Regions from separate parts of the Homo sapiens genome. Here all the other regions are reported to be linked to region 3. The links are microRNA targets in miRTarBase. Many come from high-throughput screens and were not tested one by one. Region 3 holds a microRNA gene; each other region holds the end of a gene's coding sequence.
Evidence for each region. Region 3 holds the annotated microRNA hsa-miR-548am-5p (AAAAGUAAUUGCGGUUUUUGCC, at 1,843-1,864, opposite strand). A microRNA usually pairs through its seed, bases 2 to 8, with sites in the 3' UTR of a target mRNA and lowers its output. Matches are read on the target gene's strand: a 7mer-m8 pairs with bases 2 to 8, a 7mer-A1 pairs with bases 2 to 7 and ends in A, and an 8mer does both.

Region 1 (3,000 bases), not on the chromosome of region 3:
GTAAAATACTAAATCTTTCAACTCTAAAGCACTTCTCAAATATCACTTTTAAAGTTAACCCCGAGCCTACTTTAGTTTCAATGTATTTTAATAAAAAATGGCAGAAAAATAAGAGTTGCATTCATCTTCATTATATCATTGAAATATTTTAACCAGTATGAAAGAAAACTCTCAAGTGAATTTACAAAATGCTAAAACAGTTCAAACCATATGAAAGAAATAAATATAAATATGGCCAAAAATAGTACAAATATTCATTTTTTTTCACGATAGTAGAATTTTCATATATACCTGTCAAGTAGTTATGAATATCACTGGTATTCAAAAACTAATTTAACAATGTCTTTATTTAATGACTATTCATGTTTTCAAACAAGTCTCTATGTACAGTAAATATACATAAAGTTCTAATAAACAACAGTGCAATGCTTCCCAAAGTCTTAAGCACTAGTATCAGATTCTTACAACACAGAAACCTTTTAGTTTGCCAAATGATTGGATTAAGGATACAGAATATGTCAAATACTCACTTGTGGCTTTCCAGGTCACCCTCTCCCGCCAAACAAACACAAAAGAAACAAACAAAAAAACCTAATCGCACAAATAACCACAATGTAAAAGGAAGTTCATAATCAGTATTTATATTTTTGAAATATATTTCTTAAAATACACTGCTAATTTCCTTCAGATTATACTCCAGTTGAGATTTATATAGAATCCTAAATGTGATTATTCTGTTCAGATCCATACAGTATTTCAAACCATTATTTTAAAAGATGAAATTTTGATTTTAAAAAAAGCCATAGTTTTACATCTTTCATGGGGAGAAATTTTAGACCCATCTTTCTTCTGGCCACCTCATCGTTTAAATTAAAAATAAAGTCACATCAATCACAGTGTTTTATCAAAAAGTTTTCTTCCAAAAACTTGCACTAAAAAGTTGTAATATTTGTATATAAGTGATTAACCATATTAAAACCCAGACATTTGTAAGAAGATATAAGTGAACTTTATTTATCTGTATCCTTAACCTGATACTACAGCCTTATAATAAGTATTACTTTTGGGAAGAGAAATAAAAGAGGTTTCTAATTTCCACAAAATAGTGCTAGTTAAAATGAAGAAAACTAGTTTATAATCCTTCAGAATAAAGCTTTCACTATTTGCAAGATACCATGAACATGTTAGAATTTTGCCCCCTAAATGTTTTAGATTTGATGAATATTGAGAAAGGGCTGGTTGGGAGGGTTTAAAAAGTACCTACTACTTTGCCTTTTTATTAACAAAATAATATATTTAATTTATGATTCTCCTACTAACTTCCACTTCATTTCACTGGCAAAATGGTCACTTTTTCAAATGACTTAGCAATAGAAAAACTATCCTTTCAGCTTCAAAATAGTTGTCACAATAATTTTGTAAGCCTCCACTGTAGAAGCAATTTAATTACCTCACAAACAAAAAGCACATTTGAAGTTTAGGTAACATTTCTTTCTCAAAAGATAAATGATTCAGAAGGAATATATGTAATTATGTAAAAAAACAAAAACAAAAAACCTCATGTTTCCAGTTTTAATCGTAAAAACAGAAATCTTAAAACACATACATACACTTAGGAGGAAAAAGGAGATGAATGCCAATGTCCATTAGCAAGTGTTACCGACTAATTCTATAATCTAGTTTTTTCTAGTTATATCCAAAGTTCCAAGTTTACTCTAAAATTTTCTTTCTGTACATTTACCCATTTGAACAACATCAACATTAAATAACTAAAACAAGATGGTCCATAAAATTCTTTCTATAGATTGTTGGCTGAAAGTCTCATTTCTAAAACTAGTACTTCAGTATTCCGAAATGCTCTCTCTGCGTCTTTTCATTTCTATTAGTATGTTTAGGACATAAAGCATTAAAATAAGGCTACTGCTAATGTACCAAAATCCATGTTCCAGAAAGGAAAAAAAAAAACTAATAATTATCATGTTTGAAAGGTATGTATTTTATTACTCTTGCAGGTATTTTGGACAAAAATATTGACCAGCTAATTATGCTCTTCCACACATCATGTTCACTGAGTTTACTACCACAGTTTTAGTGCAACAAAATATCTTTGAAAAGCCACTCTACAGTAATTATGGCAAGGCTCATTAATATGCAGAGGTAAAGATTTCATTTGTATAGAAACTTAGAAAATAATGTTTGAAAAGGAAAGCCATTCCATCAGGCTAAATATTTTTTGTATATTAAAAAATATATATAAATATTTCTTGAATTAGTTTTATAGTCAATTTTGATGCAGTGTCATTGAGTGGTGATAAATTTTGAGAGGTATATGTTAAACAAACATCATACTTGAGATTATAGTCTTAGGTAAACATTTAATACACAATGTCAAGGTAGTTCCCTTTTTAAAAAATTTTTGTACCAAGTAAGTCATACATTTAATGTTGACATTTCTTCTTACCTGTGTGCCTCACACCAATAAAGTACTCTGCATTAAAATTTAAATCTTGAGACAGTAGTACAGCATTGAAAAAAAATTGTAAAGCAGCTTAGATACACTGAACTCAGATTTTACATTTTCATTTGTCAGATTAGAATATAAAAAGTAAGCTTGAAAATCAACTTGAAAAAGCTTATTCTTCCTCAAGAAAAAGTATGAACAATCTGAAAATGATCAACTAGTGTGAATGAACATTGTACATAGTTAAGTCACATTCAGTGGTTGCTAAACATACCACTCCCTCCTGGAAATTACGGAACCATCTACATGTGAAACTAAGTCATCTTCGTTTTCATCATAATGTTCATCACTGACAAACTTCATTCCCATTTTTAGATCTTCATAATAATCCATTGGTCTTTCAAACCTATTGAGATTTTCTACATTGTTCCACTGAGTTTTTTCAGGCTCTTCTAAATAGTCTTTACGTATTAGATTGTTCACTGGATTTTTGTTTTCTTTTTTTACACTGTCTGGGTAAGAATCAAGCTCATCTTGTT
Region 2 (3,216 bases), not on the chromosome of region 3:
TTGAGCAACAGTTCTGTTGTTCAGAATTCCTGGATTTCACCTCACTTCTGCTCTCCCTGCAGGTGAATGTGATGTTCATGCTTGCCATTCTTCTGACATTCTTCCACCCCTTTCTGGTATATCGGGAATGCCGTACTTGGAAAGAAAGTCCCTCTGCAATTGCATAGTTCAGAAGCCCTCACTTTTCAGCCCCGAGGATGGTTTTGTTCATCTTCCACCACCTTTGAGGACCTCGTGTCCCAAAAGACTTTGCCTATCCCAGCAAAACACACACACACACACACACACACACAAAATAAAGACACACAAGGACGTCTGCGCAGCAAGAAAAGAATCTCAGTTGCCAAGCAGATTGATATCACACAGACTCAAAGCAAAGGCATGTGGAACTTCTTTATTTCAAAACAGAAGTGTCTCCTTGCACTTAGCCTTGGCAGACCCTTGACTCCAGGGGAGATGACCTGGGGGAGGAAGTGTGTCAACTATTTCTTTAGGCCTGTTTGGCTCCGAAGCCTATATGTGCCTGGATCCTCTGCCACGGGTTAAATTTTCAGGTGAAGAGTGAGGTTGTCATGGCCTCAGCTATGCTTCCTGGCTCTCCCTCAAGAGTGCAGCCTTGGCTAGAGAACTCACAGCTCTGGGAAAAAGAGGAGCAGACAGGGTTCCCTGGGCCCAGTCTCAGCCCAGCCACTGATGCTGGATGACCTTGGCCTGACCCTGGTCTGGTCTCAGAATCACTTTTCCCATCTGTAAAATTGAGATGAATTTTGGTGTTGAAAGTTCTTCCTGGAGCAGATGTCCTAGAAGGTTTTAGGAATAGTGACAGAGTCAGGCCACCCCAAGGGCCATGGGAGCCAGCTGACCTGCTTGACCGAAGGATTTCTGACAGACTATCTTTGGGGATGTTTTCAAGAAGGGATATAAGTTATTTACTTTGGGCATTTAAAAGAAAATTTCTCTCGGGAATAATTTTATAGAAAAATAAAGCTTCTGTGTCTAAGGCAACTACTGTTTCCATCTCTCTAGGCTTTGGGCCGGGGCTGTGTGTGTGTGTGTGTGTGTGTTTGTGTGTATGTGTATGTTTCTGAGGAGGCCCTACCCTGGCATGAGAGGGTAGGGAATCTGGCTACACATCTAGTGTGGCAGCTGGACCCAGAGGTGGGGCAGGAACCCTGACTATGATTCACCCCGCTGGTCCTGGGATGTGGGCCCAGAGACTTCCTCCCCCAGGAACCCCTCTGCTTCCTCTTCCTCTCCACATCCTTAACTAACTTTAGCAGAACCCTACTCCTCACTACACACCCCCAGCTAGAAGCGCTGGATGGAATCAGAAATTCCTAGTTTGAGTTTCAATTCTGCCCCTCAGCAGCTGGGCAAGCCCCTTAACCACTCTGAGTCACTAGTTCCCCACCTGCAAAGTGCAGTTAATCATTTCTATCTCTGATGGCGATTGTGAGAATGTAAAGTCATTGCAACTGCCTAGCACATGGTAGGAGCACATGAGGGTTTGCTCCTGTGTTTACTCATGACCCTTGGGGAGGACGGGGGCAAAGAGGGAGAAGTTGAGGGTGCAGGAGGAGAGATGGCAGGTGGGTGGGATGGGAGAATCTGGGGCACACCTGCTGTCTCATTCCCACCTTGCTAGGAGAGGGACTAGGAAAGAACAGTGGGAGGCAGGGGGATGGGGGTGGAAGGCAGGGGGTGGCAGGCAGGTTCATCCATCCATTCATTCAACAAATGTTTATTGAGCACCTGCCACGTGTCAGGCCCTGTCCTGGGTGCTGGGGCTATAAAGATGCAGAAGGGTCTGAAACCCAGCTCTTCCTTCTTCCTGTGGATGTCGGGGTGTAATTTCCAGGGGCCAGGAGCCTGGGTCTGAGGGCGGACACCAAAGTTCTAGTGGTGTCTATTAGCAGCGTTTAAATCTAATGGATGGATTTGGTCTTGTTACCCTGCTCAAAAGCTTTCAGCAGCTCCCCACTGTCCACAGGACAAAAATCCAGATGCTAGCCTGGCATTCAAGGCTGTCACTAGTGTGATCTCAACCTCTCCCCTTCCCTCTTTACCTCCTACCAACAGCGGGGCAGAGCCCACCCCTGTGGACCAAGATTCCCAGTCTCTGGGTCTGTGTGTGCACCAGTTCCTCTGCGTGGGTGGCTCACCCTGCCTCAGCTTGTGAAATCCATCTGGTCTGCTGGGATCCTGCTCAAAATGTCATCTTCTCCAAAAATCATTACTCAGGCTTTCCAGCATGTCTGAGTCCCTGGCACTTGGTCACACCCTTCCTGGTGACTGGCATTTGCCTCCACATCATGACCCTCCCACCCCTTGCCTGGGCAGCATACTCCAGGAGGCAAGGTCTGTTCTCGCCTGGCTCTAATTAATCTGTGCTTACCATCCACATGGTACCAGCTAATTCTTGTTGAATGAATGATCGTTGAATGAGTGGATTCTTGTTTTGGCCTCAGAACCAATTAGAAGGAGCCAGAAAAACACATGGGGGTGGGGGAGGTGCAGTGTGGTGCAGTGGAAAAAAACCCTTCTGGAAATCTCAGCTCTGTCACTTACTTTGTCAGCTCTGTGACTTTGGATGGACCACTTCTTTGTCAGTATGGTGGGAGAAATAGACATGCCTCTCTGGGCTGTTGTAAGGATTACAAATTAGGTCGAGTGCTTGGCATGTGGTGGGTTGAACAGATCACAGCTAGCATTACAGATGATATATTAAAGCCAAAAAAAGATGCCTAATGTCCACCAGTTGGTGAACGGACAAAGGAAATGTACCATATTTGGGATATTATTTGGCAATCAAAAAAAGTACTGACACCTGCTACAACACGGATGAATCTTGAAAACATTAGACTAAGTGAAAGAAGCCAGACACAAGAAACTGCTAATGATTCCATTTAAATATGAAATATCGGGCCAGGGTGCAGTGGCTCATGCCTGTAATCCCAGCACTTTGGGATGCCAAGGTGGGCAGATCACTTGAGGCCAGGAGTTCGTGACCAGCCTGGCCAACATGGCGAAACCCCGTCTCTACTAAAAATTAGCCGAGTGTAGTGGCATGCACCTGTAATCCCAGCTACTTGGTTGGCTGAGGCACAAGAATTGGTTGAGCCTGGCAGGTGGAGGTTGCAGTGAGCCAAGATCGTGCCACTGCACTCCAGCCTGGATGACACAGTGAGGTTCCGTCTCAAAAAAAAAAAAAAAAAA
Region 3 (3,000 bases):
AGGAAGGAAATCCTGTCCCATGCTACAATATGGATGAACCTTGAGGACAATATGTTAAGTGAAATAAGCCACTCATAAAAGGACAAATACTGTATGATTCTACTTCAAGGAGGTATCGATAAAACGAGAGAGTTCCCTGACCCCCCTCACAGGACGTGCAACAGAGGTATGGCTCATCTGTTCAGCCACTGTGTGCACTCAAATCCCTTATGGGAGGGGGAGCACACAGACGGGCAGGTGCAGGATCCAGGGCGAACACTTTTGGGCTCCAGCCACACAGTAGTGTCTAGGAGTGGGTGCCTGTGACTCCGGAAACTCCACTGGGCTTGCTACAGTGCTCTTTTAGCTCTGCCGTCCATAGATGGCTTAAGTGTTAACCAGCTCAGTGCCTTCTTGGTGCCTGGGTTCTTGTCCGGAATTCAGAAAGAATCAGGTCACACATGGGCTTGAAGGATGGTGAATGCGGGGATTTTATTGAGTGGTGGAGGTGGCTCTCAGTGGGATGGATGGGGAGGAAGGAGATGGAGTGGGAAGATGATCTTCCCCTGGAGTTTGGCCGTCCAGCAGCCAATCTCCTCTCCAATGGTCCCCAGCCGGACTCCTCTCCATGTTCAGATGCTCCTTCTCTTCTCTCCTTCTCTGCCACACCACTCTTCTGCTCATGGAGCCTGGGGTTTGGGGTTTATATAGTACAGGATAGGGGGCATGGCGGGCCAAAAGGCAACATTTGGGGGTGAAAACAGGAATGCTTGTTCTTATTTAGGGCCACAGGTTTCCAGGCTTGAGGGTCGGGCCTTTGCCAGAGAATCGCCCTCTTCTGCCCAGTATTTCCCGGTCTCCTGTCCATATCATCTAGAGTAGTCAAACCCAAAGAGGCAGAAAATAGAGGCCAGGCATGGTGGCTCATGCCTGTAATCCCAGCACTTTGGGAGACCAAGGGGGGCAGATCACTTGAGGTCAGGAGATCGAGACCAGGCTGGCCAACATGGTGAAACTCCATCTCTACTAAATATACAAAAATTAGCTGGGCGTGGTGGTGGACACCTGTAATCCCAGCTACTCAGGAGGCTGAGGCAGGAGAATCGCTTGAACCTGGAGGCAGAGGTTGCACTGAGCCAAGATCATGCCACTGCACTCCAATCTGGGCAACAAAGTGAGACTCTGTCTCAAAAAAAAGAAAGAAAGAAAATAGAATGGTGGTTGCCAGGGGCCAGGGGAAGGGGGAGTTGCTATTTAATGGGTATAGTTTCTAGTTTTGCAAGATGAGAAGAGTTCTGGAGACTGTACAACAATGCAATGTACTTAACACAATTGAACTGTACACTAGGAAATGGTTAAGATGGTACATTTTATGTTATGTATATTTTACCACAATTAAAAATTTTTAAAATAAAAAACAAAAATCATCCAGCCCCACTCTTGTCCATGATGCCCTCTTGCTCTGACTCACCCTTTATTCAAACCTCCCACTCCCACCCTTTGCAACCTGGCTTTTGTTCCTGTGACTTTACAGAACTGCTCTCTAAAATCCAGCAGGTCTGTCTTCAGCTGCCACCCTTCCCCTTCTGTGACCTCTGCTCCTCCAGGCACTTTTTGCCCCATCTACCTGTTCATCATCCTCAACTGGGGACCCCTGCCCAAGACTGTACCCTCTTTTCTTCTCCCACATTCGCTCCCCTGGAAGCTATCACCCACATAGCTGTCCACTCCCATTCTATACCTTCTGATCCTTATCTTTCCCCCGGTGCCATATCTCCTATTTCCAGGGGGCTAAAGGCAATCACCCATAGCATCTAATACATTGGTACAAAAGTAACTGCAGTTTTTGCCATTATTTTCGACGGCAAAAACCGCAATTACTTTTGCACCAACTTAATAAAAAAGTAAAACCACTACCTGCTGGGCTTCATTACCTCTTTTCTTGGTAGAATTGCCTTGCTTTTACACAAATGTCCTTTTTGCACCAGTGTCTTAATTTACTTCACTTTTAAGACTACCTGCAACCATGCCTTCTGCTAATTAGGCATTTTAAGGACCAGAGCCCTCTCGTATGTGCAAGAATTTGCTGATGCTTATCTAATTCAGTGCTTATCTAATTCAAAGATCCTAAGAGGCTGCCCAGGGTGCAGATATTTGTTGTATTTCGCTTGCAGAGTGCTGGCAAACACACAATATTTTAAAAATGTAAATAAGTTGCCAACATTTAAACGTCAGGAGATTTTACATAAAACTCCAGATTTCCAGATTTTCTTGAAAATTTAGAAGACTGGCAGCAGTGAATCCACAGTTCTTGATACAACTACCAGCTGTGGAAGTCACTTCTTTGATGGGGCACATGCTTGCTGATTTGCCACAGTCCCTACCACTCCTTACTGCCTCTCTAACTCTAAGGCTCAGTGTAGCTGCTGCTGATTGTTGAGCTTAAGCTGTGGCATTTCTCACACCTGCCTGTCTGCATGCCCTACTGGCCTAGATGCTCAGTGCAAAACTGACTCAGTGCTTGTGTCTATCCTTAAGCTAAACCCGCGGTTTCAGACTGGCTTTCAGAAGAGGCCTGGGGTAGGGTCTTCGCTTTCTGCACCCCCTGCTCTCCACCCACCAGACACCCCCGAAACCTGCAAAACCTTTTCTCAGGATTCTCAGTGAGGGCAGCATCCAGCTCTGGGAGCTGTTTGGGTTTTTCTGCCTCTTCTTTGATTAAGGTCCAGCCGTTTGGTACAGTGAGGTGGTCAAAGAGTCAGCTCAATGACTTTCTAACAAGTGACCTGGATGAGTGACTTAACTTTGCTAAGATTCCTTTCTTTTGTGCAAAATGGTGGCTGGGTCCTAGGGGTGATGAGAGCAATGTCTTAATTACTGGTGTGCAGAAAGCACCGAGTTGCAGCCAGCCACAGCTGGCTCCTTTATTTCTCCTTTACTTTCTCCTATATTTCTCCTTTATTTCTTACTTTTGAATTTTAGAATGTCATTTCTCCAATTTTTATAAAATATTTCATTTCT
Region 4 (3,255 bases), not on the chromosome of region 3:
AAACGTTTCCCATTTCAGTTTTAAAGTTTCTGCTGCTTTGAAGTCCAAAATATCCAATAAATAATTGCAATTTATAATTGAAGTAAAATGCAGAAGACTACTACAAAAATTTTTAAATTGACATTTATTAAATTCAAACAGTATTTGAGGACTATCTAGTTTATATACATGTTGAGGTTGATAAAGTATTGAGGACTATCTAGTTTATATACACGTTGAGGTTGATAAAGTTCAAATTCTGTTTTAGGAAGTTAACAATGAATTGAGTTCATTTTAACTGAATGTTACTATAAAAGATGGTTTTCTTGCTGCAATGTAAATCTGCTATTAAGAAATTAGCAAAGTGGCTGGTGGTGTTTGTGCCTTTAAGATCATCGTTCAAAAGAATTCAGCAAACTCGATAACAAAGGTAAGACAAACATAACCTTTATTCTCTCTCAAAAACCCAGAGAACAGGGCCTGGAACCATATTCGTTAATTTAACCAGAATCAGAATACTTTAACTTTCATAGTCTCATTTAAAATTTTATAGCAATATACTGACCATTCTAAAAATAACAAAATACATGTTGCTCTCAACTACATAGTTAAAAAAGGTAGTAAATTCTCTTACCCAAAATAGAGGAGGGGTGGGCTAGTGAGCTGCTCAAACATTTGTAACAAATAAAAATGTATCTATATACATATAATGATCATGTTTTCATAGCCTAAAATCACCATACAAAATCTAATAATAAAATTGTGTCGTGTTCAGGAGTTGGGAAGCCAACACATTAAATTAACAAAGTATTTTTGGTATATGTAAATAATGGGATAGAATCTCTCGAATCAGGATTGTCCCAGAAGTTCTAAGGCAGATGTCAATGACATGCACATTGTCCATGTTCAGTAATTTTCAAAGACTAGAATAAACTATGTAAACTATTCAATACAATTCAATATTACTTAACTGCTAAAAAGTACTTCAAGATCTTGCACTGCCTTGAGTGAGTATAATCAAGTTAGTAATTGGAAAATAGCTGTAATAGCAGGCACTGAAGAATTCTGACAAATACCAAATAACTGTTTGTTTTTACCAAATAAACTGGTAAGATGATATCACAAAGGGTTTTAAGTTATTTTGCTATACAAGGTTTTTAAAAATAAACTATTGCTTCTTAGAATAACTTTAAACATACTGATTGATGTTAATCAATAAAATCAATGGAATGATTTTAGTTGAGTGTAAACTTCATCTCAAAGGTTCAAATAATCTTAAGAATCTAGTTTACATATAAGACTATATATGCTTTAACATTGATTCAAATATGATTACTAGAAATCAATAGATTTCATTTGAAAAGATAAAAAAAATTTTTTTTCCAGGTCCAAGGGAAAAGGTATGAATGAAGCCCTTTCTAATCACACACACACACACACACACACACACACACACACACAATGACAAAGAACACTGAGCTAGGAGACATAGATGTGACTTTAGGGAACTTACTTTCCCTCGAAGATCTCTTCCAGCTATCTGATTCTACGTTAAAGCATTTCCTCTGAACTGTACAAACTGGCCTCACATTTTCGAGTTTCTACACAGTACCTGGCAAAGTTTGCCTGTTGGCTTTTACACCAAAATACTAAAATATCAAATGAATCACATAAACCCTGTCCTACAACTCTGTATGCCAACTAGTTTTCCCCAGATAGTAATTTTTTAAAAATTCATTCCACAAATCATCAAGAGCTTCCTACGTTCAAGGCAGAGTGCCAGACCAAACCTGGAACATCATGGTTGTCACTGCCCCTGGGAACAAATTACTATCCGAAAAAGTGAATTCAGTTGACTGCTTCAGGCCCAACCTGGTTCAGGGTCGTGATTCCCAAATTTGAGGGAATATGGGACTCTCCAGTGGAGTTTGTTAAAACACAGCTTCGAGGATCTCATCCCAGCCTTACTGTGTCTGAATCTCTGTTTGGTGTCTCCTAATCTACCTGCATATTTAACAAGCATGTTCTCCCTCACGCCTCCACGTCTCTGCAGGTAATTTGTGGGCCTCACTCTCCATTCCAGCCCACTCTCCCCGACCAAAGAAAAGAAAACCACTGTACTGTAGTGGCGAAAGCCCTGGACTCAAGATTCAGGAGTCACTTGCAGCTGCCTGATCTTTGTTACTTCACATTGCTAGGTCTCTCAATCTCTTCCTCTAATAGGGGTTTAATAGGAGTCTCCATAGGGATCCCTTCCACTCTCAGACTTGAAGAACCTCACATGGCAACTCAGTGTCGTGAAGGAGGTGGGAAGAGTTTGCAAGGATGTTTCACTCTGCAGTCAACATCCCTCCCCGCGGCAAGACAGTCTAGCAGCCCCCCAAGAGCAAGGGGGGTAATTCCCTTATCTGGTCCCCTCATTCACAAAGGGAGGAAAAGCTAGGCGAGGTTGGAATTGGGTGACGGGCGAGGAGGAGATGCCAAAAGCACCTTGCAAGAGTTTTGGCAAGAAGCAGGAGGGATCCCTGGAAAGCCGGAATCACTCCTCGTCGTCGTCGTCCTGGTCCTGGTAGCGAATGTAGACGACCAGCATGACAAAGCCGGTGAGGATGCAGAGGGAGCCGACGACCAGGTAGGCGATGCCCAGGAAGGGGTTCTTGCCACCCATCCACGAGATGCTGCTGAAGATGAGGAGCTTGTGGCCGCCGAACGCGCGCACCGGGTAGTTGTAGGTGATGTTGACGCGGTAGGCGCCCCGCGGCAGCCCGGCCGAGTAGTTGCCCTGGCGGATGCGCGCGTACAGTTTGCGGAACGTGGGCAGCGCCGCCGTGCGCATCCACACCACGAAGTCCTGATTGATGAAGCCGGTGTTGTTGGGGTCGGGGCTGAGCTCGTAGACTGGCCGGCGCCAGTTGGGCGGGGGCGCCGTGCCCTGGAAGGCCAACGCCAGGCTGCCGTTGACCAGCGGCGGGTTGCGGAACTTGACGTGGTAGTCGGTCCACCAGGCGATGCCGGAGCGGTCGAGCGGCACCTCGACGTAGGGCCCGCCGGGCTGGCGCTGGTGCCAAAGCGAGAAGGAGTCGTTGAAGAGGCTGTTGGCGATGGCGCCGCAGGGCGCGATGGGCAGGCCGGCCGCGCTGCGCTGGTAGGGGGCGCACTCGTTGACAGGGTGGCGCAGCGCGCTGGGGAGTCCGCTCAGCTGCGCGTCGTCGCGGGACACGCCGTAGCGCCGGTTGTTCTGGTAGAAGTTGGTCAGCTCGTAGTAGAGGTACACTG

Region 1: the mRNA of NECTIN3 is a reported target of hsa-miR-548am-5p. Seed matches in the 3' UTR shown: 7mer-m8 at 2,603-2,609 and 7mer-A1 at 2,480-2,486.
Region 2: the mRNA of SLC43A3 is a reported target of hsa-miR-548am-5p. Seed matches in the 3' UTR shown: 7mer-m8 at 930-936.
Region 4: miRTarBase lists TMEM30B as a target of hsa-miR-548am-5p. Seed matches in the 3' UTR shown: 7mer-A1 at 182-188.

The regions. Positions count from the first base shown.
Region 1 is chr3:111,133,941-111,136,940 of GRCh38, reverse strand. It overlaps NECTIN3 (nectin cell adhesion molecule 3), which reads right to left. Exons shown (of 6, transcript NM_015480.3): 6 at 1-3,000. The coding sequence ends at 2,726. Among named protein-coding and RNA genes, the nearest start is that of NECTIN3, 64 kb to the right of the region's middle.
Region 2 is chr11:57,404,743-57,407,958 of GRCh38, reverse strand. It overlaps SLC43A3 (solute carrier family 43 member 3), which reads left to right. Exons shown (of 14, transcript NM_199329.3): 14 at 63-1,005. The coding sequence ends at 167. Among named protein-coding and RNA genes, the nearest start is that of PRG2, 16 kb to the right of the region's middle.
Region 3 is chrX:16,625,213-16,628,212 of GRCh38, forward strand. It overlaps MIR548AM (microRNA 548am), which reads right to left and starts at 1,873; the gene lies at 1,800-1,873. The region is part of intron 14 of CTPS2 (CTP synthase 2); the gene reads right to left.
Region 4 is chr14:61,277,574-61,280,828 of GRCh38, forward strand. TMEM30B (transmembrane protein 30B) reads right to left here. Exons shown (of 1, transcript NM_001017970.3): 1 at 1-3,255. The coding sequence ends at 2,519. It also overlaps a transcript of PRKCH not described here. Among named protein-coding and RNA genes, the nearest start is that of TMEM30B, 2.1 kb to the right of the region's middle. RefSeq lists an enhancer at 2,227-3,190.